Linked DNA regions of Homo sapiens. The protein of the gene in region 1 interacts with the protein of each later gene in a pairwise test. Each region holds a gene or a part of one and is shown in the gene's direction. Other genes may lie near its edges.

Evidence for each region.
Region 2: the proteins of LPAR3 (region 1) and SGMS2 interact in binary tests that used the Homo sapiens proteins (3 or more experiments, as listed by UniProt).
Region 3: the proteins of LPAR3 (region 1) and CYB561 interact in binary tests that used the Homo sapiens proteins (3 or more experiments, as listed by UniProt).
Region 4: the proteins of LPAR3 (region 1) and NDUFAF2 interact in binary tests that used the Homo sapiens proteins (3 or more experiments, as listed by UniProt).

The regions. Positions count from the first base shown.
Region 1 is NC_000001.11:84,862,191-84,869,215, reverse strand, and holds part of LPAR3 (lysophosphatidic acid receptor 3), read left to right. Parts: intron 1-3,077; 5' UTR 3,078-3,095; coding exon 3,096-3,831; intron 3,832-7,025. UniProt on the Homo sapiens protein: Receptor for lysophosphatidic acid (LPA), a mediator of diverse cellular activities. May play a role in the development of ovarian cancer. Seems to be coupled to the G(i)/G(o) and G(q) families of heteromeric G proteins.
Region 2 is NC_000004.12:107,820,328-107,827,939, forward strand, and holds the start of SGMS2 (phosphatidylcholine:ceramide cholinephosphotransferase 2), read left to right. Parts: upstream 1-4,604; 5' UTR 4,605-4,926; intron 4,927-5,344; exon of another isoform or gene 5,345-5,482; intron 5,483-7,612. UniProt on the Homo sapiens protein: Sphingomyelin synthase that primarily contributes to sphingomyelin synthesis and homeostasis at the plasma membrane.
Region 3 is NC_000017.11:63,436,307-63,443,331, reverse strand, and holds part of CYB561 (transmembrane ascorbate-dependent reductase CYB561), read left to right. Parts: intron 1-2,504; exon of another isoform or gene 2,505-2,605; intron 2,606-3,064; exon of another isoform or gene 3,065-3,132; coding exon of another isoform or gene 3,133-3,140; intron 3,141-5,771; coding exon of another isoform or gene 5,772-5,784; coding exon 5,785-5,986; intron 5,987-7,025. UniProt on the Homo sapiens protein: Transmembrane reductase that uses ascorbate as an electron donor in the cytoplasm and transfers electrons across membranes to reduce monodehydro-L-ascorbate radical in the lumen of secretory vesicles.
Region 4 is NC_000005.10:61,067,183-61,074,207, forward strand, and holds part of NDUFAF2 (NADH dehydrogenase [ubiquinone] 1 alpha subcomplex assembly factor 2), read left to right. Parts: intron 1-5,942; coding exon 5,943-6,032; intron 6,033-7,025. UniProt on the Homo sapiens protein: Acts as a molecular chaperone for mitochondrial complex I assembly. Complex I functions in the transfer of electrons from NADH to the respiratory chain. The immediate electron acceptor for the enzyme is believed to be ubiquinone.

The DNA.
Region 1 (7,025 bases):
AGTAAAAATCATTGAGGTGTTAGTGCTTGATATAATTAAAAATTCGACCACATGTAAGAAATAAAACTAAAATGTTAAGATCCTTCAAAATAAAATTAGGAAAATTTGAGTAGTATTTTTGTAGTGTCTTAATTCCAATGTCTTTGTGACATATTCATCTTTATATTTCTAATAAATTAGTCAAAGATAATATAACTTTTAAATTAGAAATGTTTCTCTTAGATGTATAGAGCATGAAACAAAGTAAAATATATACATTATTTTTAATTAGAAAAGACACATAATAATTGTATTATTAAATTTTCCCATGTGGTGTCTTAGTCTATTCCTGTTGCAATAATAAAAATACTTTAGGTAATTAATAAATAACAGAAATTTATTGCTCACTATTCTGGAAGCTAGGAGGTCCAAGATCAAAGCATCAGTAGATTTGGTGTCTGGTGAGGGCCTGGTCTCTGCTTCCAGAAGGGGGCAAATGCTGTGTCCTTGAATGGCAGTGTGGCAAAAAGGGTCTCACGAGTTCTCTCAGGCCTCTTCAATAAGGGCACTAATCCCATTCACTTCCCAAAGTCCCCACCTATTAATATCACTGCAGTTAGGGTTAGGTGTCAACATGAATTTTGGAGGCACACAAACATTCAGACCATAGCAAGTGATTCTCGGATTGTTTGTCTTGAATTTCTGTATACTTTCAACATGGTTGAAAGCTGTATTTCTCTTTAAATATTTAAATTGAGTATCACTAGATTAGCACCTTGTATTTAACTCTCATATGCTGCTGGTAGAATTAAAAATATGATCTCTCAGGCTGGGTGTGATGGCTCATGCTTGTAATCTCAGCACTTTGGGAGGCCAAGGTGGGCGGATCACCTGAGATCAGGAGTTCGAGACCATCCTGGCCAACATGGTGAAACCCCGTCTCTACTAAAAACACAAAAATTAGCCGGGCGTGCTGGCATGCGCCTGTGGTCCCAGCTACTCAGGAGGCTGAGACAGGAGAATCACTTGAACCCAGGAGGCAGAGGTTGCAGTGAGCCAAGATTGCACCACTGCACTCCAGCCTGGGCGACAGAGCAAGACTCCATCTTGGAAAAAAAAAAATGCTATCTCTCTTAAGTGGAGTTTCACAAGATGTATCAGAAACCCTTAAATAGATTTATATCCTTTACTTCAATTTGAAATCTATGGGTTATTCCTAAAGAAACAATTGGCTAGATATATAAAGATTAATGAACAAGAATGCAGCCTTGCTTATAAAAGTGAAATACAGGAAGCAACCCTAATGTCCAGTATTTAGGATTAGTTAAGTCAGGTGTGGCCTATTCATATAATAGAATATTGTGAAGCTATTAAAATTATACTACCTGTATTTTTAATTTGGGGAAATTATGATATAGTGTAAATATATGATATTATCATGAATTTATTTGATATTTACAGTTAAATATTGGTGACTGTCTGCCAAAGAGAGTAATTTTTATTTTGTCATTATGAAAATTGAGTCTTCCTTTCTTGTAATTGAAAGATACTGGAACCATTTGTCTCTTGAGACTACTCCCAGTTTTTTTTAAGCATATAAAATGATATTTACCTCCCATTTGCTATGGCCAAAAAGCAATATCTAATTCATGTAAAAGTATCATTATACCATTAAAATATAAATTAAAAAAAAGACTGAGATACATTTCTATTTTGTACTACTTAATAGTTATCTGGTCTTCTTGATTCTGGTTGTGGTATTAGATTTCAGAATTTTCAGGAACTTTAAAATCTGGGGGCTTTTACTGAGCTTTTACTGTCACAGCTCCCAGAGGGCTGCTCAGTCCCTCTGCCGACTGAATCTCTGGTTCTCCAGGGAATAAGCTGCAGCCTCATTCTCAGTGAGGGAGCAGATGGTCATTCTTCCAAGAAGCTAGAACCCTGACCCTAAGCCCAATCTTCTTCCGTAGGACCGTTCATGGCTGTGGCCAGACCACTGTGAGGCAGAACACTTGGTTTTCCCCACCACGTGTAGACAGATGGGCATCCGTGGGGCTTCTGCCCAGCCCTTCCTTGGCCAAGATCCCTCGCTTTTGGGATTCAAGAGATCTTTTACTGAGAGGATTAGTGTCTTCCCTGTCTGCCTGATATCCCAGTTTGGGGTCTTCTTTCAGACAAGTGTCTGAAGAACATGCCCTCACTTAATAGATATGTTCTCACATCCACATTGAGTTGGAGATCTGCCCCAATTCCAAATCTCAGTCTTGCCTGTGGAAGCCCGATCCTCCTCCACCTGCCGTGTTGAGGAATGCTGGAAAATCCAGTGAGCAGGTTCACATTGGTACAGTTTGGGTTAGGAGACTATAAGGAAGAAGTGAACAAAAGGTAAGGAAGGGAGATATTGGGACCAAAGTCTCCATCCCTGCATCATATACCTAATATGTGAATATCAGAGTTGTTTGTTGAAACCAAAAGATGGCAAAAGGAGGATCAGGAGTGGAATCAGAAGTCATAGAAAACTGGTCTCTTGGGGTATCTGTTTGGTTATGTGAATGGTAATTCAACTCCTATTATCTTGGGAAGAATGTACCTGAAATTACCAACCTGCCGTTGATTAATGAACATATCCATAAATAACTAATGAACTGGGAGCCAGGAGGAGGCATTAACATAATGTGTTGTCATTGTGTTACCAGTGCAGAGTGGATATTGCAGGGCTCAGCACATTTGCCCTGTTGATGCCTCCATGAGAATTCATTCATTCATTCAGCCAGCCAGCCAACCTACCAATAATTACCCACCATGAGGCAGACAGAGCAACTGAATCCTAGGGTTGTAATGGTGAACAAAATAGAGATACACCCTCCTAACCTGAGCGGCCTAGCCTGGGAAACAAACAATTAAAATGTGCGCTAAATGCTGTGGTAGGAGGTCAGGGGCTATGTCCTGGACCAAAGGACATTTGCACTGAGACCTGACACTTCAGGTCTTCAACTCCCTTGATGGGAGTTAGCCAGAACGGGCTTAGAAACAGCAATTGATGGCTTAGTGACTGATTTTACAAATGATATTTGTTTCTTCTTTAAATTTCTTTCTAGGATGTTCACTTCTCCACAATGAATGAGTGTCACTATGACAAGCACATGGACTTTTTTTATAATAGGAGCAACACTGATACTGTCGATGACTGGACAGGAACAAAGCTTGTGATTGTTTTGTGTGTTGGGACGTTTTTCTGCCTGTTTATTTTTTTTTCTAATTCTCTGGTCATCGCGGCAGTGATCAAAAACAGAAAATTTCATTTCCCCTTCTACTACCTGTTGGCTAATTTAGCTGCTGCCGATTTCTTCGCTGGAATTGCCTATGTATTCCTGATGTTTAACACAGGCCCAGTTTCAAAAACTTTGACTGTCAACCGCTGGTTTCTCCGTCAGGGGCTTCTGGACAGTAGCTTGACTGCTTCCCTCACCAACTTGCTGGTTATCGCCGTGGAGAGGCACATGTCAATCATGAGGATGCGGGTCCATAGCAACCTGACCAAAAAGAGGGTGACACTGCTCATTTTGCTTGTCTGGGCCATCGCCATTTTTATGGGGGCGGTCCCCACACTGGGCTGGAATTGCCTCTGCAACATCTCTGCCTGCTCTTCCCTGGCCCCCATTTACAGCAGGAGTTACCTTGTTTTCTGGACAGTGTCCAACCTCATGGCCTTCCTCATCATGGTTGTGGTGTACCTGCGGATCTACGTGTACGTCAAGAGGAAAACCAACGTCTTGTCTCCGCATACAAGTGGGTCCATCAGCCGCCGGAGGACACCCATGAAGCTAATGAAGACGGTGATGACTGTCTTAGGTAGGTAAGAGGACCCAAGCAAGCCATCATTCCCATTCATTCAGCAAATCTTTACGGAGCATCTGTGGTGTACCAGGCACTTACTAGGCAGTAAGAATGCAGCAGTGAACAAGAACGGACATAAATCGCCACCCACCTGGAGCTTACACTCTAATAAGGAAAGATAAAATAAGTATTCTAATGGGGGTAAACAAATTAAGTGAAATAAGATGAGTCTCCTGTGGAAAAATCAATCAGGGAAGGAAGGAAAAATAAAGCAGGGAAGGGAGCTGGAGAGTGCTAAGCTAAGCAGGTATCGTTTGCACTTTAAAAAAGTGTTGTGAGGGATGCCTGGAAGATGACTTTTGAGCAGAGGTGTGAAGGCAGTCAGGGAGTGAACCATACTGGTGTCTGGGGAAGGGTGTTCCAGGTGGGAGAAGCGGTAAGCACAGGAGCCCTGACCAGCCAGGAAGCCACTATGGCTGCATGGATCGAGCAGAGGGAGTAGGAGAAGATGAGGTCAGGGAGCTGGTGGGGTAGGGGATGGGCTACTCAGATAATGTAGGGTCATGTGGTTATAAGGACTTCAGCTTTTCATTTTTTTTTCTTTTTTCTTTTTTTGCCGGAGCCTCACTCACTCTGTCACCCAGGCTGGAGTGCAGTGGTGCCGTCTCAGCTCACTGCAACCTCCACCTCCCGAGTTCAAGCAATTCTCCTGCCTCAGCGTCCCAAGTTGCTGGGATTACAGGCAGCGCACCACCATGCCCAGCTAATTTTTGTATTTTTAGTAGAGATGGGGTTTCTCCATGTTGGCTGGGCCAGTCTCAAGTGAGATGAGAAGCTATGGGAAGGTTTTAAACAGGGGAGTGACATGATCTGACTTATATTTTAATGGTATCTCTCTGGCTACTGTTTTAAGACACTGCTGTAATGAGGCAATAGCAAAAACAGGAAAATTGTTTAACCTATTTATGCCTAGTGTTCCATTATTGGAATGCTAAGCTTGTGGGAGTTATTTATATCCTACTGCTCAAGGTCATTGACAAGTTCTGATTTTTCACAAAAGAAATTTGCAACCCCTGGCATAAATGGGTTAATAGAGTATTTCAGTACTCGGGAGAGATCACCATGGCCAGATGGTAGTTGAAGGTGATGGTCAGATTCTGTTTTTTTGTTTTTTGTTTTTTTTTTTTTGAGACAGGACCTGGCTCTGTCATCTAGGCTATAGTGCAGTGGTGCAATCTCAGCTCACTGCAACCTCCACCTCCTGGCCTCAAGTGATCCTTCTACCTCAGCCTCCCAAGTAGCTGGGATTACAGGCCTGTGCCACCAGGCCCGGCTAATTTTTGTAATTTTTTTAGAGACAGGGTTTCACCATGTTGCCCAGGCTACTCTCGAACTCCTGAGCTGAAGCCATCCGCCTGCCTCGGCCTCCCACAGTACTGGGATTACAGGTGTGAGCCACTGCACCTGGCCAGATTCCAGATATTTTTTAAAGGATTTACTGATGGGTAAGGTAGAGGGGAAGATGAGAGGTGGAGGAGAAGGTGGGGAATGTCATTAACCAAGATGAGGAAGACTGAAGAGGAGGAGGTTTTGGGGGAAGATTTGGTTTTGGACAAGCTAAATTTAGGAACCTATTAGACATCCAAGGGGTGTGGCAATTTTATTGAGTGGACAGTTGGATGTTTGACTCAGGAATTCAAGATTTAGGTCTGGGCTGGAGATGTACATTTGAGAGTCCTGGGGGGAAACTGGTATTTTAAATCACAGGACTGCGTGAGCTCACCATGAACGTGAATGTGGATATGAAGGAGAGGAGGACCAAGGATGGAGCCGTAGGGCAGGCCCTCCAGTGTAAGGAGGTCAGGAGGTAAGGGGCAGCCAGCAAAGGAGCCCTAGAAGGGATGGAAAACCCAGGAGACTCTGGGGAACTAGAAGAAAGAGAAGAAGGCAATCGAGGAGAGGAAGCATTAGCAGTGTTGGTACCCCTGAGAGGTGGTGTAAGACCAGGTGTTGCTGGCCTTACCAAAGTGGTGGACTTGTGCTGATCTTGAGATCATCACATTTGGTATAGCCAAGAGCCTGATTGGAGTAAAATTGAGAAAGAAAGGAAGAGCCTGGGCAACATGGTGAAACCCCATCTCTATGAAAAATACTAAAATTAGCTGGCCATGGTGGTGCATACCTGTAGTCCCAGCTACTTGGGTGGCTGAGGTGGGAGAACCGCTTGAACCCGGGAGGTTGAGGTTGAGTGAGCTGTGATCACACCACGGCACTCCAGCCTGAACAACAGAGTAAGAGCCTGTCTTAAGAAACAAAAACAAAACCAAAAAAAAAAAAAGGGAGGAGAGAAAGGTTGTGAGCCCTGTACCAAGAAGACATGTGGTTTCGTAGAATTTTCCCTTTGTTTTATTTTCTCTGAAGTAGGTGGCCTATTGCCCCACCTCCCCAGTTCTAATTCTGGGTTACAGGTAGAATTTGTAATGTGTGGGCAGACAAGAACTTTTGTGGTTTCACAGAACTTGTCTTGTAAGGCAGAGAGGCCGTTTCTCACTGTGTGTGTGGCTGCAGCAATGGGGACTGTTGCTGAGAGAGATTCAGGAGTACATTTCTGTCTACTCCTTATGAGAAGGAATTATAAAATGAATTATCAGGTAGCAGTTCATAGTGGAGGATACAGTATGTGTGGTGTGGTATAGAAACCCTCACAATGCCTCTAGGTCCTGAAACTGCTAGTAAGATTTGGGGGTCAGCAGACACAGAGTGTGATTGTTAAAATAATTTCAAACTGAGGATTTATTTAACAAATATTTATATAGTGCTTAATATGTGCCAAGCATTGTCCTAAGTGTTTTTACAAACATTAACTTATTTAATTCTCATGGAAACCCTGTGAGATAGGTGCTACTATTATACCCATTTACCAGATGGAGAAACTGAGAGTTTAAGCAGTGTGTCCAGTCACTCAGCTGTTAACCAAGACTCACTGCGCAGCTGGCCTCTAGAGTTCACATATTTACCACCATACTCTGTGGCTACTTGTGATTTATCTGGACTTTTTACGCTCATCTTTTTGTCCTGTCTTCTGCTTTGACACCGTTGACACATTGATAAGAAAATGGACAAGAACAAGAAAAAGAGGGTTCACATTAATCGGCATTTCCCCTCGAGCTGGAGAAGATATTGATGTTTTTGATAAAGAATGAACTTTG
Region 2 (7,612 bases), on another chromosome or scaffold:
TCTGGACCTGTATTTGTAGCCTCATTTGCGATGTTTTCCTACTTTACCTAAACTATAATGGGTTTTCCCTTGGACATCTTCTCACTCTCTAATATTTCCAGACAATCTCGGTTGATTTTCCGTGGAATCCTTTACTATTACATGCTGGCTATTCTCAAATTTGTATCTCCAGTCCATGCCTCTTTTTCTGAGTTCCAGACTAGTATCATCAGCTGCTCACTTTTCATTTATACATCTCACACCTCAAACTCATCAAGTTTGAAACTCATCATTTGCCCCCCAAAAGCTGCTGCTGTCTCAGCACTCCCTGTCTTGGTAAAGGGCACCACCATCCACCAAAGAGCTCAAACCAAAAAAAATATAGAAGTCATCTTTGGCTTCATCCTCATATCCCAACTGATCTGCAAATCCTGCAATAAACATCCTCATGCAAAATTAAAAAAAGAAAAACCTTTCAATTCCTGAGACATATGTTCGTTTAGAAGGTAACATGGTGATTCTTTTTCTTTTTCTTTTTTATTTTCTTTTGAGACAGAGTCTCGCTCTGTTGCCTAGGCTGGAGTGCAGTGAAAGGATCTTAGCTCATTGCAAACTCCCCCTCCCAGGGTCCAGCGATTTTCATGCCTCAGCCTCCTGAGTAGCTGGGATTACAGGCATGTGCTACCATGCCTGGCTAATTTTTTGTATTTTTAGTATAGACGGGGTTTCACTATGTTGGCCAGGTTGGTCTTGAACTCCTGGCCTGACGTGATCTGCCTGCCTTGGCCTCCCAAAGTGCTAGGATTATAGCCATGAGCCACTGTGCCCGGACCATGGAGATTCTTAGATAAACAGCCATGGGCACAAAGTAGGAATTCAATACAAATTTGTGGGTTGAGCAAATGACTTTAGATATGTTCAGATTCGAGTTACTGTAAGAGGAAATAAGTACTATAGATCTACATGTTTTCCTAAATCAGTATGTTTTATCAAATCAAAGAAATACCTGTAAAACTTGATTTATGCTGCCTTGGAGAAAACAATGGACAAGAACACACTTATCTATCATCCATTTCTCTCCCTTGAAACACTCAGTGCCATTATTTTTGAAAGGTGATGAATTGCAAATTTTGTCACTTTTCATACATGGTAAGAACAAAAGGTGCAGTTAAAAAACAAAAAAAAAATCATCTTTCTGTGAAAAGGATGTTACTATTTCTTAAAACATAGAAATTAAGATGAGTAATTTGCTTTCTCATATGTTGATAATGAATAGATTGAAAAAACTTCGTATCATCCATTATCAATTATATTATTTAATATATGTACTTGGGGATATTTAAATGGTATAATAAAATGACCTAATTACTTATTTCACAATATTTAAACTGAGGCACAATAGTAACCACTAATTCAAAACTACCCATTCAACAGCCTTCCACACAGAGGCTTATGAGGGAACTACAGGGTTTATATCAGCCAACAGTGCAGGCAGAACTGCAAGCTTTGTTTGGAGCTTTTTGACTTTATCCATGTACACAGGCCAAAAAGCCCACAATATCAATTGAGATCTGTAGAAAATTGTATTTAGACTTATCCCATAATGTCCAAATATTTGGATCATGAAGTAGGGAGTAGGTGGGATATTCACGCAAACTTACTTATAGATGGCTATACATTTGAATCTAGTCATTCAGTGTTACCAATGGATAGGACACCCATGCTTCTGAATTAGCTCTGTGATTGTCTATAAAAACTGCTGATTTGAATTTTGACTGCATCCTAGCAAACCAATCCATTTGCTATTGCCTTCTGGGCAAAATGCCTGGGCTTTGTAAATTTGAAAATGAGCTCCTTATTGAAGGGGAAAAATAAACCCCAGGACAATAACTTTCGATTGGTGGTCTCCTCTGGGTTCTAACCTTTAAAAGTAGCTCTAAAAGAGTCCATTTTCCACAACAATGATGTTGAGCCCTTGGTTAATTTTAGGAGCATTTTCATTTGGGGGAAACTTCTGTATTGTGACAACATCTTTTTTTGGTTTTATATTTTAAAAATTTGGGGGGACCGGGCACAGTGGCTCATGTCTGTAAATCCCAGCACTTTGCGAGGCCGAGAAGGGTGGATCGCAAGGTCAAGAGTTCGAGAACAGCCTGACTAACATGTTGAGACCCTGTCTCTGCTAAAAATACAAAAATTAGCCAGGGTTGGTGGCACACACCTGTAATCCCAGCTACTCGGGAGGCTGAGGCAGGAGAATTGCTTGAACCCAGGAGGTGGAGGTTGCAGTGAGCTGAGATTAAGCCACTGCACTCCAGCCCAGGCGACAGAGCAAGACTCCATCTCAAAAAAATTTTTTTAAATTTAATTTTTGTAGGTACATAGTAGGTATATTTATGGGGTACACACAATATTTTGATATAGGCACATAATGCATAATAATCACATCAGAGTAAATGGGATATCTACCATCTCAAACATTTATCCTTTCTTTATGTTACAAACCAATTATATTCTTAGTTATTTTAAAATGCACAATTACTGTTGCCTGTAGTTGCCCTGTTTTGCTATCAAATACTATACCTTATTCATTCTATCTAACTATATATATATTTTTTACCCATTACCCATCCCCCCTACCCTTCCCAGCCTCTGGTAACCATCATTCTACTGTCTCCATGAGTTCAATTGTTTTAAATGTTAGCTCCCATGAATAAGTGAGAACATGTGAAATTTGTCTTTCTGTGCCTGGCTTATTTCACTTAACATAATGACCTCTAGTTCCATCTATGTTGTTGCAAATGCCAGGATCTCATTCTTTGTTATGGCTGAATAGTACTCCATGGGTATATGTAACGATTTATCCATTCATCTGTTGATGGACACTTAGGTTGCTTCCAAACCTTGGCTATTGTGAGTAGTGCTGCAATAAACATAGGAGTGCAGGTATCTCTTTGATACACTGATTTCCTTTTTTGGGCATATATACCTAGCAGTGAGATTGCTAGGTCATACGGTATCTCTATTTTTAGTTTTATGAGGAACTTCCATACTGTTCTCCATAGTGGTTATACTTTTTACATTCCCACAAACACAAGGGTTCCTTTTTTTTTCCACAACCTCGCCAGTATTTATTGCCTGAGCACCTTTTCATATACCTGTTTGCTATTTGTATGTCTTCTTTTGAGAAATGTCTATTCAAATCTTTTGCCCATTTATTACTCGGACTATTAGATTTTTTTTTCCTATAGAGTTGTTGGAGCTCCTCATATATTCTGGTTATTAATCCCTTGTCAGATGGATAGTTCCCATTCTGTGGGTTGTCTCTTCAGTTTGTTTCCTTTGCTGTGCAGAAGCTTTTTAGCTTAATATGATCCCATTTGTCCATTTTCTTTGGTTGCCTGTACTGTGACGACATCTTGAAGTTGCGAGTTTGGGGATTGCCTGCCTTGTATATTCTTTTCTGTTACCATCATCTTTAATAGCCACAAATGACTGTTGACCCACATGATATCTGCACTAGAAACCCAAAGATTCCCGTCATTATTTTTGTTGATTATATGGAAGCACCCATAAACCAGCGCAAATCCTAAACATAATTATCTTGTCCAGAAGGAGACATTAATGTAAAACTTATGTCAAGAAAGATTTAGCCACATTCCCTCGGATTGGTCATTCCTAGTTAGAGTCCTTGAGGCTGCCATCGTTTACTTTGAAAACTGCCCAGCAGGTGTATGAATAGCAACTCCAGGACAATGTAGAACCATTACCATTTTAAAGACAGCAATCCCCCTTTTAAAAAACTACTGAGGCCTTCGAAGAAACCACACGGCTGCCTTGGGCCCCAAAAGCTGCGGAAAAGCGCAGTATTCAGTTAAGCAAATAACTACTTACACTGTTTATTTTGGTTACGATTCCTTAAGTGAGAAGTAAATCAATTAACAGGACAAATGACACGATGGTTAGGCACGAAAGGGACAGTGCTGCCACCTCATTAGCTTGGAGCAACCTTCCAGCTCATACCATGCGGACTGATGACTAACCTTGCCAGGCAACGCTGTGAGGTTTGGAAACCCACCTCTTTGACCTAGGCCCGGTCAACACCGATAAACCCTCTGAATCAACGCTGGCGCTCCCAAGCCCACTCACACGCCGTCAGGAAGCAGTTTCCGAAACAGGCCGGGTGCGGGGGTGGGGGATCCCGTTCCAGCCCCACCCCTGAAAGTTGCTGGGAGTGGCACCCAAAGAACTTTCCCAGATTGATCTCTGTTGCCGCTCAGGGAGGTCAGCTCCAGGCCCTCAGCCTTTCGGCCGGGAGCCAAACTGCCCTGCCTGCCAAGCCCCTCCTTCTCTGCACCTTAAACAGCCGCGAGGGGAGAGTCGGCTGGGATTTTCTTCTTAAGAAGTCGCGCAGGTTTTTCGAGCTCCACTCTGCGCCAGGAGAGCCACGGCAGCAGGAACGGGCACTGCTGCCACCGGGCCGACGGGTGAGTCACTGTTTGGAAATGGAGTGGGCGGGCGAGGGTGTGAGAGAATGAATGATGTCAAGAGCGCGCTGGGCGCAGGGCGCAGGGAGCGGGCCGCGCGCGGCGGGCGGGGAGAGCGGGCGCGGGGCCGCGGTCAACACTGAGCGCCGCGCCGTGGGCCGAGTGGGGCGGGGAGACCCAGCCCTCGGCGCGCACGGAGCCTGGCCGGTGCTGCAGCGCCGCCGAGTGCGGCCTCGGGGGCGGCGGCCGCGGGAGGGACCCGGAGAGCTGCTTCCCCTAGTCAGGCCGCGGCGTGGGAGGGCGAGACCCCGAGCAAACTTTCTAGCGGCTTCGGCCCGAGGGTGGTGACGCCCGGGGCTGGTCGCGGCGGCTGCGGCAGCGGGCTCCATCCCCTGGCAAATCCCCTTCCCGGGAGCAAGTGCCTTCAGCTGGGAGTGTCTGGAGCCCTGGCCACCAGCGGGTAAGGAGCGCGCGGAGGGGCCAGGAGGAGGATGGGCTGGGGAGCGGAGAGTCCTCCGAAGCGCGGGAGGGGAAAGGTGGATTGCGAAGCGGGGACGTGGCTCTAATCCGGCCCCCACCCTCCCCGCCCAGGGCATGCTTCCTCGATTTTGTGGTCTGGAGGAGAGATGTGTGCCTTAGTCTCCTTCCTCTGAGCAGTCATCTCATTCATTTGCAACCCATTTCGGGTACCCCGGTCCTGGCGTTGGAAGGGCACAGGTTAAACCCCAGATTGTCCAGAACCACTCCGGAGGTCAGGGCTGAAGTTCAGTTGGTGGAGGAGGGACTGTGTGTGTGTGTTTGTGTGTGTGGTTTTTCTTTTCTTTCTCTTTTTTTTTTTTTTTTTTTTTGAGAGGCACTTACTGATGATGTGTGAACAGTAACAGCCCAGCTCTGGGCAGCCCACACCGAAACCCTTCAACGTGTGGCATTCCAGAGCTGCTCCCTTTACGGAAGGGAAGACTTGGTTTCTCAGCGAAAATAAGGGGCGGGGAACCCCTGTCAACATCCATCCAGAGGTATGGATAATCATTAATTATCCACGGCTTGAAACCAACTCAAAATGTTATGTCCTGTAGTCTTTTTTATTTATTAATGTTGCCGGTCCTCTATTTCAAGTCTTGCCTGCTCTGAAATGACCTTAAAATCATTTTGACATGTGTGTTATATTTTGAAGAGATTCAACTGTTTAGTGTCACTGGATTCGGCGTGGGTTTTCAATCTGTACCTAACTTTTCAAATCCTTGGTTTCATTACCAGTCTCCTCTATTAACGGTGGGTGCTCAGGCACATTAAACATTCTGAACCAGTAAAATGGGATTATAGCTACTTCAGATAATAAGGTGGATTAAATAAGGATTAATAATGAGGATAATAATGAGGATTAAAGCGCAAAAGACTTCTCATAATGTCTGGTACAAAGCAGACCCCAACAAATTATAGCTGTTTATATATAAATAATAGTGTGTTGCAGCTGGCTTAGGTAATAACCAATTAATTTCCACAGAATGTCCTCCTTATAAGCCTGGTGGGCCGAGGGTTAGCATGTGAAATCCTTTGGCAAGTTCCTTAGATTGGGAAGTGATGTTTTCAGCAAGTTAAACATTTTTAGTACGGATACCTGAGAAGGTTATGGTTTCCATCCTGTGTCATGGGAACTGCCATTTACTGTTTAAACAATGTCAGAGCAATGGCTGAAAGTGACAACCTGGAATTTACAGGAAGAAAGGACGTGAGGAAGCTAACTTTACCTTTACCTTTTTTTTTTCCTAAAGAAGCAGTGCAAGCAGTGCAAAATTTCCTCTTTATGGCCCTTTCCTTGGTCTTCTAATGTTCTTACTTCACAATAGTCTGGTTGAAGTGTTTTTTTTTTTAACAAGTTAATGTTTAATTTGGTTCCTTTGGTTTCATTTTTAAGTAAAGCTAGTTGACTTGTGAACCTAGAGGGAAACACTTGGACACCTTGAGGTGGCTGCACCTTGTTCTGAGTTTCTCCCCTCGCAGAATCTCATAAAAGCCCTAGGAAATGTTTGGAAGAAACTTTAGCACTTGTGCACGTTATTGAAGACATTTGCTCTTACCATAACTATAACAACTTACAGGGTGAAAGATCTGGGAGCTGTCCTACGACAGTACCGTGTAGTGAGATCATGGACATGGGAATCCAGGAGACCTGAGGCTCTCTGAGCTGTGTTCCTTTGAGCAAGTTTACTTAAACTCTTTGGGATTTTTGTGGGACTTTAAACAAAATATAGGGGAAAAATAGAAATAATCTTAGAACTATTAAAATAGACAATGGAGTATCAGTGAGAACTTTTTTTAAAAGTGATGCTTTGAGGTGAGATGTTTCTTTTTTAAAGGAATAATTACTGAGAGTTTTGGACAGTTTTAGACTAAACAATGACTTACCCACCTTTAGCGTGTTGTCTCAATGGAGAAATTGAAGGCTTTGTCTTGAACTACTAGTATCAGATATTTATTTGCTTAACGTTTAGTATGCAACAACTACATAACAGCCACTGTGCTAGGGGCCAGCAATGCAAACGAAGGAGATAGTTGCTACCCCAAAGCTTATAGTCCAGTAGAGACCTCAGGCTGTGATTATCAAGAGGGGAAAAAAGGAGTCAAAAAAGGAGAGTGCTGGGGACTTGGGAAGAGACAAGAAGTGATTAGGCCGTCATAGGCTGCCTCCCACTGATAATAAGAGATCTGGTGGCATTCTGAATGGTCTTGAATAGGGGCTCGTAAATTCTTTATGAGGCCGAATAATAAAAGTATGCCTTGCTTTACACAGTAAAATATTACGGACAAGTGATAGCTCTTCAGTTTAAATAATTTTAAATATTCAAAGCAAGCTTGTTTAAATGAAATCTGAAGGGTCAGCTCAGCTCAACTGAGATATATTTGCTGTGTGGCTGGGTGCAGTGGCTCACACCTGTAATTCCAGCACTTTGGGAGGCCGAGGCAGGCAGATCACTTGACGTCAGAAGTTCAAGAGCAGCCTGGCCAATATGGTAAAACTCCATCTCTACTAAAAATAGAAAAATTAGCCGGGCATGTTGGTGCTCGCCTGTAGTCCCAGATACTCGGGAGGCTGACGCAGGAGAATCGCTTGAACCTGGGAGGTGGAGGTTGCAGTGAGCTGAGAT
Region 3 (7,025 bases), on another chromosome or scaffold:
AATGCCTTCTCTCTTACCCTTTGGTCAGGGCCTGGTGTCTCTGCATGCACCAGGGCTTAGTGCCATGCTGGTACAAGCGTGGGGAGGATGCAGGAGGACTGGCATGGGATGGGGAGCACTGCCTGGGAAGCCCCTTCTTCCTGGGGCTACTGGGGTGCTAAGAAAGTACCCTAATAGCTCACACCACACTTTGCTTTCTCCTTCATCACATGCTAGGACGCTCTAGGGCAATTGAGCTGTTTTCCCCTTCACCCATCAAGAAGAGATATCGGCCTTTCCGCAGTCACAGTCTTTCCTAACTCAATTCAAACTCTGCTGTTGATAAGGAGGGCTGTAGCCAGCCCAGGCTGCCCGCTTCCCAGCCTCCCCTGCTCCGCCTTCCGCCCCCGAGGCTGTGCACCATGTGCAGTGTCTGGTCCCCAATAATGAGATTAGTCTTGGTTGCCTTTTAATAAAACGCAGTGGGCACCGGGAGGGAGAGCGATGCTTGGCTCAGTGAAGATCTGCGGGTCATGCTGTCCCTAATGCGCTGATTGCATTAAGTGGATTCTGGCTGCAGGTAGGGTGAGTGGGTGGGGACGAGGGTGACTCTCACAGCTCTAAGATCCAGAAACTGCCAGAGATCTGTCACCCTCATCCTGAGCTGTCACAGAGGAAGGCAAGTGACTGTGTGAGGGGCTACGTGAGCTCCCTCTGGTTGCAAGGTTCTGGTCTGCAGGGCAGTGGAGCCCTTGGGGGTGGGGAGTGGCAGCTTCCAGGCCTTGAAGCTGCTGCCCACAGTTCTGCTCTGAGAACACAGAGGGCCCAAGAACAGCCGGTGTCCCAGGGCTGCCCAGTGAGGAGGGAAGAGCGAGAGAGTATTCTTGCTGTCAAGACTGGGAAATGAGGGCCACGATTCAAAGCCTTGCTTCCTAGGGAGAAATCTCACCCAATGTCCAGGTTTGCAAATGCAGCAGACACATTTGTGGGTGGGTCAGATTCTGTCCAGAGATACCAGAATGTCTATCCCTGTACACCCCCACCTCTGGCATGGGACAGCCCTTCCCTGCACACAAATGGGTTATCAATTATGTCCAATGAATGGCCTCACGAGAGTCCTGTTGCGGAAGGGATCTTCCGCTTATCTCCTGTAAAGCACAGAGCCACGCTCAGAACCTACGGACTGTGGTCGCCTGCAGGCCAGCCATGGGCTTTCCTTTCATCCTTACACTTAGATTTTGAAGCCTCGCCTTTGAATCAGAAGCAGGCTGCTGTCATTCCAGAGGCCGCTGTTCATCTCTGGCTTCCTCCCAGATGCCCAGGTGCCCCGGGTGCCTGGGCTGCCTAGGCCAGGGCACCCGCCTTAGGAGCAAATGGAAATGCATCTTCCTCGGCTTGTTTGCCCTCCTGTAACCCCTTCCCTCTTGCCTTCGGTCAGGGCCTGCTGTCTTGCACGCACCAGTGCTTAGTGCCATGGTGGAACCGAGGCGGGGAGGACGCAGGAGGACTGGCACAGGAGGGGGGGCACCGCCCGGGAGCTTCCCCTGCGTCAAAGCAGCTTCCTCAGTGAGCTCCAACACAGACCCTTGCTGGCCTCAGTCTCTGGAAAGACTGACAGCACCACCCTAGTTCCTGGGCCTTGGAAAGGCCAAAGCCACGAGCAGGCAGCCACTGTTCGGCAGGAGAGCTAGAGATGCTATTGCCCACAGACATCAAAGCAGGGGTGCCGTCTTCCGTGTGCATGCTGGGACGGGTCTTGGAGGCCCAGATTAGCTCCTGGCTTGAACTTGTACCACCCTTACCTGAAAATTGGGTCTGTACCAAAGCTCATCTGCACGCCCCTTTAGGGCAGGGACCAGGCCCCCTCTGTGTGGCCCTAGCACCTGGCCAAGTGCAGGTGGCTGCGGGTTGAGTTGAGCTGCTATTTGCTGATGGGAATTTGGGGGCCTGTCGCTTGTCCTCTTTGAGCCTCCATTTCCTGGCCTGTCAAATTGGGGCAATGCTCCTGTTATCCACACAGTGTCATTTAAGGGTGACATTAGAGATGGCATGAAGTGCCCAGCACAGAGCAGGTGCTCACAGGCTGTTGGGTCCCCACCCTACTGACACACCAAGCACACGTCTGCCCTGCCATGGTGGGGAGCAAACAATGTTATGGTTCCGACTCCCCGGGAGGCCAGGCCGGGCATTTCACTGTAGGATGTTGAAGCCGCAGGCAGTCGTCGCTGCGAGAAGAGAGCCTGGCTCTGATGTCCACTGTCTTCCAGGGAGCCTGGTGGGAAGGAAGGAGTGGGCAGCGGCCCCTCGCTCTGCGGGCCTCTCCTGCCCTTTGTACTCCACGAGGTGTGAGGAAGTTGCCGGGTCACCCAGCAGAGGGAGAGGTGATGTCCCCTCTGTTCTTCCTAATTTGTAGCTAATCAGATTCTGCCTGCAGCCAGGCTCTCTGGGGATGAATCTAATAAAGGAGGCGGCGACCTGGAGAGGAGGACAGACAACAAGTGACCAGGGGGGACAGCACTTCTTTCAGTACATTTTCCTGTTAGACTCGGGGTATTAGAGACCCAAAGATACCCAAGGAGGAGTGAGAGCGTCCCTGCCTTCGAGGAGCAGACAGGGCACCGCGAGGGTAAGGAGGCTCCGGGAGAGCCTGGGGACAGAGTGATCTGCGCACCGCGGTGCCTGAGGAGTGGAGGCAGGGGTGTGGGCCCACAGCAGGGAGCCAGGCTGGGCCATGTCCTTGGATTCTGTGAGCCCAGGCGTCTCCTCTAGAGGGCCTAGCAGGAACAGTGGGGGCTGCAGATGGAAACGGGCAGGATCATGCCATGCAGTTGGCATTTCACTGGCACTCGGGGGCACTTACGCAGGGGACAGCATGATGTTGGGAGCTGGCTTTGTCCCTGGCATGTCTGTCACGTTGAAGAGGGAGAAGCTGCAGGCCCTGACTTGGGTGGGGCAGTGAGGATGCTCAGGAGGGAAGTGAGGGGAGGGGTGCCAGCATGCGGCGGCCTGGGCAGCCTTCTGTGGAGGAGCTGAGGTGTCACCTGGGCCCGGAAGAAGGGCAGCCCTGCTAGCTAGTGGGGAGGGCATGAGAGAACTTGGCGACGATGGGAGAGAAGGTGACTTGGGACGAGCTGGGTTTGAAGCGTCTGTGGGATGTCCAGGTAGAGATGAGTAGTGAACCGTCAGAAATGGGGCTTGAATTTGGGGTGGCGGGGACAGAACTGATACCCGTGTAGGTGACAGATAAGGACAGAGGCAGGAGTTCCAAAAATAGGATTTATTGTTGGCTGGGGCTTCTGGAATCCCGTATTCCCGTCCACCCTGGGAATGTGGATTGGAGCTATGTTTCTGGGAGATGATTTGATGGAATGTGTCAGAAGTCTAAAACAGAACCTAGCCCTTGTTTCAGGATTCCCTGCAGAGAAGTTTGCAGATGACCACATCCTGTTGTTTATTTGGTGGAAAACTGAAATCGAAAGCTAGCTAAATGCTGAACAATGGGAACTAGTTGGCTAAAAAATGGCCGTGCAATGCAAGAGTGTGAGGTTACGAAAATGATGATGTGGGCGCGTATCCATTGACACAAACATCCATGTGTGCTACGCCCTCAGTTAAAAAGCAGGTTAGAAAATGGAATAAATGATCCTGCTTCTATAAAAGGATGCATATGTGTTTTAGGAAGAAGGTGTGTGAGGATATAGATCAAATTCTGATGGCCTGTCATTTTACCTTTTTTGCTGATCCATATTCTACTGCAGTGCGTGTGGATTATTAGCACACACACACACCCTTTTTTTTTTAATTAAAAAAAATTTTTTTTGAGACAGAGTCTCATTCTGTCACCCAGGCTGGAATGCAGTGGTGCGATCTTGGCCCACTGCAAACTCTGCCTCCTGAGCTCAAGGGATTCTAGTGCCTCAGCCTCCCAAGTAGCTGGGATTACAGGTGTGAGCCACCATGCCCGGCTAATTTTTATATTTTTAGTAGAGATAGGGTTTCACCATGTTGTGGCTGGTCTTGAACTCCTGGCCTCAGGTGATCCACTCGCCTTGGCCTCCCCAGGTGCTGGGATTATAGGTGTGAGCCATCGCACCCGGCCCACACACACACCCCCCCTTTAATGGTGGAGTTGCCAACAGTTGTCCGATGTGGCAGAGAGAACTGGGGAGCAGAGAAGGAGCCCATCACTGGGAGGGACTGAAAACCAGCTCCTGGGCACTGCAGGGCAGAGCGTGTGCCGGGTGTGAAGGGGGTCAGTGCCCCTGTGCTGGCCACTGTCCCCCTAGTTCTGATACAGTTGCTGCCAGGAGAGGCTGGACCGTGGCAAGGGGCCAGTGGGGAACCGGGGCGGGATGGGGGGCAGCAGCAGTGCTCTGGGGTCTGCTTGTGGTGGCCATGGTGGTGGCAGTTGCAGTGGCAACTGTGGGCCATGGCAGCACTTTTCCGTGGCGCACAGGCCGCTGCCGGGTGAGGGGAGAGCCCCGCTTGTTCTCCTCCTGCCGCCTCTCCTCCCATCCCCAGCTGCTGGGTGCTCTCCGGCCGGCATGAAGCTGTGCAGGCACTGGGCACTCCCTTGGGCTCTTAGCGGGGCCTTCTCATTGCTGCTTCGCTAGGAACCACCCGCTCTCCTTTCCTCCTGGAGGGCCACGTGGGGCCGAGCACCTGGGACAGCCGTGCTGAGCTCTACCCGGCCCCTTCGCAGGCCTCGTTTCTGGGGGCCTTCAGTTTTGGAAACCTCCCTGAGGGCCCCTCTAGAGTGCGGGTCCGCCCCGCCCCTGGTGTGGAGGGGAAGTGCCCTGTCCCTGTGTGCTGACAGGTCCCTGTGTGCAGCATGGTCGGGGCACTTCTACTCTGCAGGCGCGGCCGGGCGGGGAGCGGGGTGGGGGGCGGGCGGGGGCGTGGGGGGAGCGGGGCTGGCTCTCCTGGGTGTGGGGTGGGGAGGCCTCCTCATCGCCAGCATGGAGTTAAAAACCAGGATGGGGGAGGGAGACTTCCCATTTCTCCCGAGATGTACTTCATGACGCGTCTGGAGAAAAGGTGTGACCAGCCCCTTCCTTCCCGTCAAGGAGCGCGCTTGCCTGTGTAACTCACCTGTAAAGCCCACCCAGGGAAGGCCAGGGCCTCATGAAACAGAAAACAAAGCCGGGCACTGGGCCCTTGAGCTCACTAGAATTTGGGGTATCTTTCCTTGCACCCTCACCGCATATGGAACTCCTGGCGTCGTGTCCCAGGTCACGCCTGTCCCCGTGGGGAGGCTGGGCCCCTCCCCCCAGCCACTCCCGAGACTTGAGACCTCTGCCTCAGGACGATGGGTGGGAAGGGGCTTGCGGGTAGGAGAGCGAGCGCTGCTTCCAGCGGGAGCCTCGGGGGAGGGTGGCGGGGCCGCCGTGGGAGGAGCCGCGCCGCATCTCAGGCGCAGTCTCTAGGGGCTGTGCGCATCCGTGGGGGGGACATGCGCATCTCAGGGGGGCTGCTCGCATCTGGGGGTGCTGTGTGCATCTCGGGGGGGCTGTGCCCATCTAGCGGGGTGGCTGTGCGCATCTGGAGGGGGCTGTGCGCAACCCGGGGGGGGTGTTGCGCGCATCTAGCAGGGGCGGCTGTGCGCATTTCGGGGGGGGCTGTGCATATCTGGGGGGACCGTGCTTATCTCCGGGGGCGGCTGTGCGCATCTTGAGGGGTGTGTACATCTCGGGGGGCCTGTGCGCATCTTGGGGGGCTGTGTGCATCCGCGGGGGCTGTGCGCATCTCGGGGTGCTGTGCGCTGCTCCTCTGAGCTCTGCTCTTTCTTGCAGCGTTTGCCTCAGCATGGAGGGCGGGGCCGCGGCAGCCACCCCCACAGCACTGCCTTACTACGTGGCCTTCTCCCAGCTGCTGGGCCTGACCTTGGTGGCCATGACCGGCGCGTGGCTCGGGCTGTACCGAGGCGGCATTGCCTGGGAGAGCGACCTGCAGTTCAACGCGCACCCCCTCTGCATGGTCATAGGCCTGATCTTCCTGCAGGGAAATGGTGAGTCCCATGGGCCGCTCCTCTTTTCCCGGGCTTGTGGGGGTCCCTGAGAGGCAGTTTGCAGGGGTCTTGTCACCCCTGCGGTCTCTTCTGGTTGGACAAATCTAAGATTCTAGAAAAGACAGAGACAGAAGCTGGTTCAGAGCCTGGGGAGATGGAATCCAAACCCAGGCTCTGAGGTTGGTGAGTGGCAGCTCCTCTCCAGCCTGGTCCAGCATTTTCACCTCGTTTCCACACACAGCATCCAAGGCGGGCACTTCTTGCAGCAGAGGGAAAGGAATGAGGCTCCGAGCCAGGCCCTGCTGCAGGGGTGGTTTGAATTGAGGGAAAAAAAGTAATCATATGTGAGAGTTTGTATGCGTGCGTGCGTGCGCGCGCATGTGTGTTGTTGGTCTTGGACTTGGCAGAGCTAGAGCGCCTCCCCCTGGGGCAGGAGCAAGGCAGTGCTTGGCCTCCACCTGCCTCCAGGCCAGGGATCCAGGAAGCGGGATCTGCATCCGGTTGACCCGCTCTTCCTAGAGGTGGTCCTGGTGACAGCCATTCCTGAGCAGCAGAAAGCTAAGAGGCATTCCTCACGTGACCTGGCCTTGCCCACCTCTTCTGGACGCGGGAGATCAGGCTGGGATCACAAGGTTCTGCTTGGGAGCCAGGCGCCTGCTTGCTAGGAGTAGGACCATCTGCCCAGGCTTAGGTGGGGGCCTGTGTGAGGAGCCACGTGGCTAACAGGTGAACTCAGAGGCTGCTTGTTGCCTCAGTGTGACCAACAGTGGACCTCAAACACAGCCTGGAATTTGCAGGACACCTGACAAGAAGGTGGGTGGAGGGGGGCGTCTGCTGGGCCGGGCAGCTCCTTTAGGTGGGGACGAGGGCAGAGGCGCTGCCTTCACTGCCTGTCCTGGTGGTGGGGACTGTGGTGCAGCCTCCGGCCCTGCCCTCTTTGTGCACAGCTGGGGGAGGTTGGAGGGTGGGGGAGGGGTGTTAAGGTGCACACAGCCCTAGGTGCCCTCAGAGAAGGCCAGGAGCTGCCCAGGGTCCCCAG
Region 4 (7,025 bases), on another chromosome or scaffold:
AGTTTTAGGGTACATGTGCACAACGTGCAGGTTTGTTACATATGTATACATGTGCCATGATGGTGTGCTGCACCCATTAACTCGTCATTTAGCATTAGGTATATCTCCTAATGCTATCCCTCCCCCCTCCCCCTACCCCACAACAGTCCCCAGTGTGTGGTGTTCCCCTTCCTGTGTCCATATGTTTTCATTGTTCAATTCCCACCTATGAGTGAGAACATGTGGTGTTTGGTTTTTTGTCCTTGCGATAGTTTGCTGAGAATGATGGTTTCCAGCTTCATCCATGTCCCTACAAAGGACATGAACTCATCATTTTTTATGGCTGCATAGTATTCCGTGGTGTATATGTGCCACATTTTCTTAATCCAGTCTATCATTGATGGATATTTGGGTTGGTTCCAAGTCTTTGCTATTGTGAGTAGTGCCACAATAAACATACGTGTGCATGTGTCTTTATAGCAGCATTATTTGTAGTCCTTTGGGTATATACCCAGTAATGGGATGGCTGGGTCAAATGGTATTTCTAGTTCTAGATCCCTGAGGAATTGCCACACTGACTTCCACAGTGGTTGAACTAGTTTACAGTCCCACCAACAGTGTAAAAGTGTTCCTATTTCTCCACATCCTCTCCAGCACCTGTTGTTTCCTGACTTTTTAATGATTGCCATTCTAACTGGTGTGAGATGGTATCTCACTGTGGTTTTGATTTGCATTTCTCTGATGGCCAGTGATGATAAGCATGTTTTCATATTTTAATTTGCTTCACTCTAGTAACCTTTTTACTGTCTATTCATATCCCACAACATCATGTTATATCCCTTAAATATATACAATGAAATTTATTTTAAATACATAAAAGTGAGATTTTTAAGTGTTTATTAATTCATTTTAAAATATCACTAATAAATCCATTACATGTTAACATAAAGAATGTATGGATCACTATACTTTACCTCTTTCTTCCTCCCGGATCTTGAAGTTCTGCCTTAATTTGTAAAACTTCCTTTGTATAGCATATCTGATACATATCTTTAATTGGCATACATTTTCATTTTTAGTATTTTTTAACTTGCTTTACTGCCTATGCTTAACAAGGCAATCTTTTTTACTTTTATCTTCACATTTTAAACACAATTGAACAAAAGAAATGTTATTAACACACTTTTACAAGAAATTTCTTTTTCCTCAGAATGTCAGAGTAAGTTCAGAAACTGAATATTGATTTTCCTTTTTAAGTTATGCAACAATGACATGAAAACCTTTATATTTTCCATGTGGTAGGAAAAAGGATATAGGTACAATTTTAATCTCATAAATACATGCGCACATGTATATGTGTTTGTGTATTTATAATCTATTAGTTACAATAGTCTGAAAGGGAACAATAACATGTTAATATGATATTTTGAGTCACGCGCTTACAGGTCATTTTTATTTTTTTCTACTTTTTGGTATTTTCCAGATTTTCTTCAGTGAAGTTTTAATGAATCTATTATTAGGATTAAGTTAATTGATTTAAGATGTGTCTTCCACATTCTGAAACACCTTAATGAAAGGCAGTGGTTTTTCTTTTTTGGAAAGAAATAGTGATTTTTACTCTTTTACTTTTAGCTTAGCCCTTGTATTTTACCAACCGAAATGTCAGTTTGTAGATGTAACATTTGTAGTCATCTGAAAGTCTGGCAACATATCTTAGTGGTTAAGTGTCTAGGATCTGGAGTCAAAAGACCCATGTTCAAATCCTGATATCTGTTTGCTAGCAAGTAAATGTCTTAAGTTCTCTTAAGCCTCAATCTCTTTATAAATGAAATGTACAAATTGTTTATTTAAATGAAGTAATAATAGTACCTCATAGCATTGTATAGCTTAAATGAAATTACTCATGCAGAGCTAAAACTTAGTTCAATATCTGGCACATGGTAAACATGCCATAAATGTTAGTGCTTTTTTTTTTTTTTTTTCCTGACTCTGGAAATCTAGGACCTCTCCCTTCTTCCTTCAAACCTAACAAAACATTGTTGTGAACTACAGGATTTTTTGAAATCAAGGGTAAATGTAATCCAAGCAAGACTTTGATATTCAACACCCATTACCTGTCCATAGGAGTTTCCTGCTGGTTGTATTGGTTTCTATGCCCTGTAACACCATATGTGTGGCTGGGCCTGTCTCTACAACCCAGTGTGGTCTGCAGTGTGGTTTCCCAACTGTGGTCTATAAGATGACTTTAGATGACACAAAGACAACCCTTTAAATTTTTTAAATCTATTTTTATGGGTGAGCAAAAAACACAACTAGCACATTAAGTCAGTGATTACATGAATATTTTTTAGAGTAAGGTAAAAATGAGTATTGAGGAAAAATGCAAATCACTGTAAAGAAAAATATTAGGTTATAGTACTCTAAAGTATGGCAAAAATTGCAAAGATGGTACTTGAATGGCTGAAGTTTAGGTTTCTGCTCTAGAGGCTCCTTCCCATATCTGTGTCCAGGGTGCTCATACACTGTCCCAGAAGCTCAGTAGTACATGTGAAACCTGTCTTTTACCTAAACCCTTGTCATCTACGATATGCCTTGGGATCTCACCTTTTATTATGTTTTCTTCCTTCCTTTCTTTCTTTTTTTAAAATTAAATGGGCTCCATATATTTCTAAACAAAGAAATAGGAAATCTACCATCCTCCTAAGGCAATTAGCTCAACAGCAGCTAGCTTTTTCTTTTTTTAAAGTTTGGAAAAATATACTGTTATATCTACAGTCTTTAAATACATAGATTATTGACCATTACTACCTTCCTGAATTCAAACCCTGTGTTTCAATTAAATATAATATTGTTTAGTATTAAATAAAACAACTGTGTACTGTTTTATTTAATAATACTCATTGAGTCCACCAATGTCAATTATTTTTGTTGTATTAGGACTTATTGAACCTACACATATATTGGATTAAATGTTTTTGTCACCAAGTTAATTTTTAAATGTAAATTAGAACCTAAAATTTTGATGCTTGAGCAGGTACTTAAATTTGCTGTATTCACTACGATGGAAATTTTTTTGCTGTGATAAATAGAGTTGTCTTTACAAATATTGCATGAAAGCATATTAGTATAAGTAAGTGTACAGTTTGTGCATAATTCCTTACTCAGTGGGAGGCATAAATTCCATTCCCAATTCATAAAAATTGAACAAGTAGTATTTATTCCAAAAAAAGGGAGTAGTTTTACAGTGATTTATTGAGGAGATAAACATATCTGATTACAAAGAATTTATTTAATAAGCTAATAGCTTTATTTTATATTACTAAAGATGTATACTTTTTTAAAAAATCTTTATTTCAACTATTTCTAAATAAAGGTTTATTCAGTGATTGTCCTGAAATTAAACTAGCTCATTAATTACTCTTCCTGTCTTTGCATACACACACACACACACACACACACACACACACGCACTCACATACACACAAATAGGCATAACTTTTGATTTTTTAAATCCTTGGGAGACCTTACATGAAGTTGATCGACCTAAGAGTAGGAATAGAAAGTTATTTTTTTTGTTGCAGATATGCCTGTAGTATATATGCATTTAGTAGTGCTACTGAGAACGATAGACCTGTCTATCCTCTCCCCATGTGCTAAACTTTATGGATGTACATTTAAAAACTTATAGACCATACATGTACTTTGAGGATCCCATGTATTTGCATTTTTATTTTAGACAATAGTTTTCCTTTCTATAACTATTACTCCAAAAAACATTCTTACATTTTGGTAATTAGATAAGGACTACATGAAGACATCGGTATTTGACTAACACATTTTGAAAATTGTCACATAAGCTTACTTTAATATATGCTAAATTATAAATACTAAATTTATAGTAACTTGTTATGATGTATTTATATATGTGAATGTAAATAGCATTTTAGTAAACATACATGTACATATATTGAACCTCTACTGTGAGAGAAATGCAGTTGTCATTGTTATATGCTCCTTGTACCCTAATCCTTGTTCCTACCACTTTTAGTATCAGTCCCTTGTCCTACTGTAAATTTATTGGGTAAGATAAGCAAAAGGTAACTCCTCTTTGTAGAACTTGGGGAACCTCTGCGTTAGGATTAAATCAGCCTGATTAAATGACTTCATAATGAAATGCAGAACTTCCTGACCACATACTTAAGATTTATTAGCCATTAATGGGTTGTCTATGAACTCCCAGCCTTTCACTTAATATTACTAAGATGGAAGAAATAAAACCAGCCATTCAGCTTTCTTAGGCTTTCCTTTTATGTCGTCCTTTCTCCTGCACAGTCACTCCCAGGAGTTTCCTGTCCACACTTAAATGAATTTACAGCTAATAGAATATCAGGTAGTGTAGGAGAGAGATTTGCAGGCATCAAGGTTAATTTCTTTAATTATGTAAGTCAGTATATTTAGCATAGTGTAAGATTGGCTTAGGAGTGGTAAGAGAAAGGAGTATTTTGTAAGGTCCAAATTTCTCTCCCTGACTGGTCTGATCACTGTTAAGCCATGCTGCTCCCTTTATCATTCCTCACTAATGACTTCTCTGTCTCAGCTCACATTCCCTGGAGTAGGCAGGCACACTTGTTAAATAGTAGGAAGTAGAAAGCCTACCTGGTTTCCCCAGGCTCAAAGGTTCAGTGAGAAAGAAACATGTTTTGAAGCAACCATTTTGATAAAGCTGCTTTGAAAGATATAATGAAGACTTTCTGAAAACAGAAGAAAATAACAATTAGTTTTATGCCTTCTGTATAAACTTAAAATATGCACTAATCAACTTTTATTGAGAAATATAAGCATTAGGCATTCTCATTCCATTCTTGACTTCTCACCAACTTTTACTTTACTGTTCTCTCTGTTTCATGTTTCTGCATTGCTACTATTCCACTCCAGATATTAATCTCTCATCTGAAGAACCATAGACTTTGAAATTATGATAAAAGATCAAAGGGAGACAAAACAGCAGCAGCTGGTCTCTCAATGTGGCTCTAACAGTAACATACGAACTTAGTAGCTTGTAAGTGGTCACCATCAGTCTACCATAGCCATAACCAAACCAATGACCAGTTTTGTTAAATTCTCTTAAGAGGAAGTGATTCAGATGGGCCACAGAATTCAACCCATGGCTTGGCTCCCTTGGGTTTGCCAGTGTATTAGGGAGAGGGTGGCTGCAGGGTCTTGTGGTCCATTACATACTTAGTAACAGCAATGAATATCGATTTTCTTGGGTGATTGCAGCAGCCATTGCTTCCTCTAAGATATATACATGTAAGTCAGAAGAAGTTGAACTTGCTGTTGATTATTAAAATATTTTTTATTGGCCATTAGTGCTCTATAGGATTAATTGGTTGCTCTTTTTCTGTACATTAAATCTAGATTTATTTATTTATCTATTTATTTATTTATTTTTTGAGATGGAGTCTCACTCTGTAGCCCAAGCTGGAGTGCAGTGGCTCGATCTCGGTTCACTGCAGCCTCTGCCTCCCGGGCTCAAGTGATTCTCGTGCTTTAGCCTCCTGAGTAGAGTAGCTGGGACTACAGGTGTGTGCCACCATGCCTGGCTAATTTTTTGTATTTTAGTAGAGATGGGGTTTCACCATGTTGCCCAGGTTGATCTTGAACTCCTGAGCTCAGGCGATCCACCCACCTCGGCCTCCCAAAGTGCTGGGATTACAGGCGTGAGCCACTGCGGCTGGCCTACCTTTAATTTTTGTAGGCTGTGGTAAATAATTATAAATTTTTACAGTAGTTTAGAATTTGCCTTTTGTAATATACCTAATTCAAAATGGAAATCTATTCTCGTTTTCCTGTTAATTTAATTCTTTTACTATATAAGGGGTTATGCAATATTCAAAGATTAATTGTAGAACTACTGTATCATAGGTTCATTTAAAAATGTATTAATGACTTTTGTCTTATAGGACAAACTATTCGAGAGAAAAGAATTGTAGAAGCAGCAAATAAAAAAGAAGTAGACTATGAAGCAGGGGATATTCCAACAGAATGGGAAGGTAAGTTTCTGCTTTTAGTAGAATCTCATGGGAGGTAAGTTATATAACAGTATACAAATTCAATAAGAGCATATATAGTTATATACTGTTTCTCTTTGCAAAAAAGTTTTAGTGTCTGAATGTTTGAAACTTTGTTTTTTTAACATTGCATTTCTTTGAAAGTTGTGAAGGTGCTGAATTTTAGTAAGCAGATGCATGTATAGCAAAAAGAACTATTAAGCATTATCAGAGCTGAGACTAAGGTGAGGCAAGCCAAAATCCTAAGATGCAAAATTTAAGCAGGCACTCACTTTCATGTAGTGACCCAGCACTTGCACAATCCTAGGATTTGAATCCTGTTTCTGGCACTCATTACACACATGAACTTGCAAAGTAACTTAAACTTTTAGTTTTTTCTTTTATAAATTATGCATAATACTTGCTGTAGATACCATTTGGAGTATTTTTTCAACTCACAATAACTCTATGATAACTGACTGCCTGTTAAGACAAGGATGGATGCTCGATCCCTTTCCTAAGACTTTGAAGTTAAAATAAAAGATCAAAGGGAGACAAACAGCAGCAGTTGGTCTCTCAGTGTGGCTCTAACAGTAACATATGAACTTAGTAGCTTGTAAGTGGTCACCTTCAGTCTACCATCAAAGTTTTATTGCATAAAAAGCTAATTGATTTTAGAAAAGCTAATATTGCAGAAAAAGCTGATTTACTGAGAAGAAAACGGAAACTAGTTCACAATGAGAAGTACATAGAGAGAATATTTCCTAGTTTTCCAACAGCTTTCTGGTTCCCAGTTCAGTTTCTCTCTGAATGAAGTTCATCTGCAAGACTGAGTTCAAAATGGCACCTCATAACCATGTTATGTATTTCTGTTTTTTGCTTACCAGTTCCTAGCATAGTGCCTGGCACATTGTAAGGCACCTAGTAGGTAGTTAATCAATATGTATTGAATACCTGAGGCCGGGAGTGGTGACTCACGCCTGTAATCCCAGCACT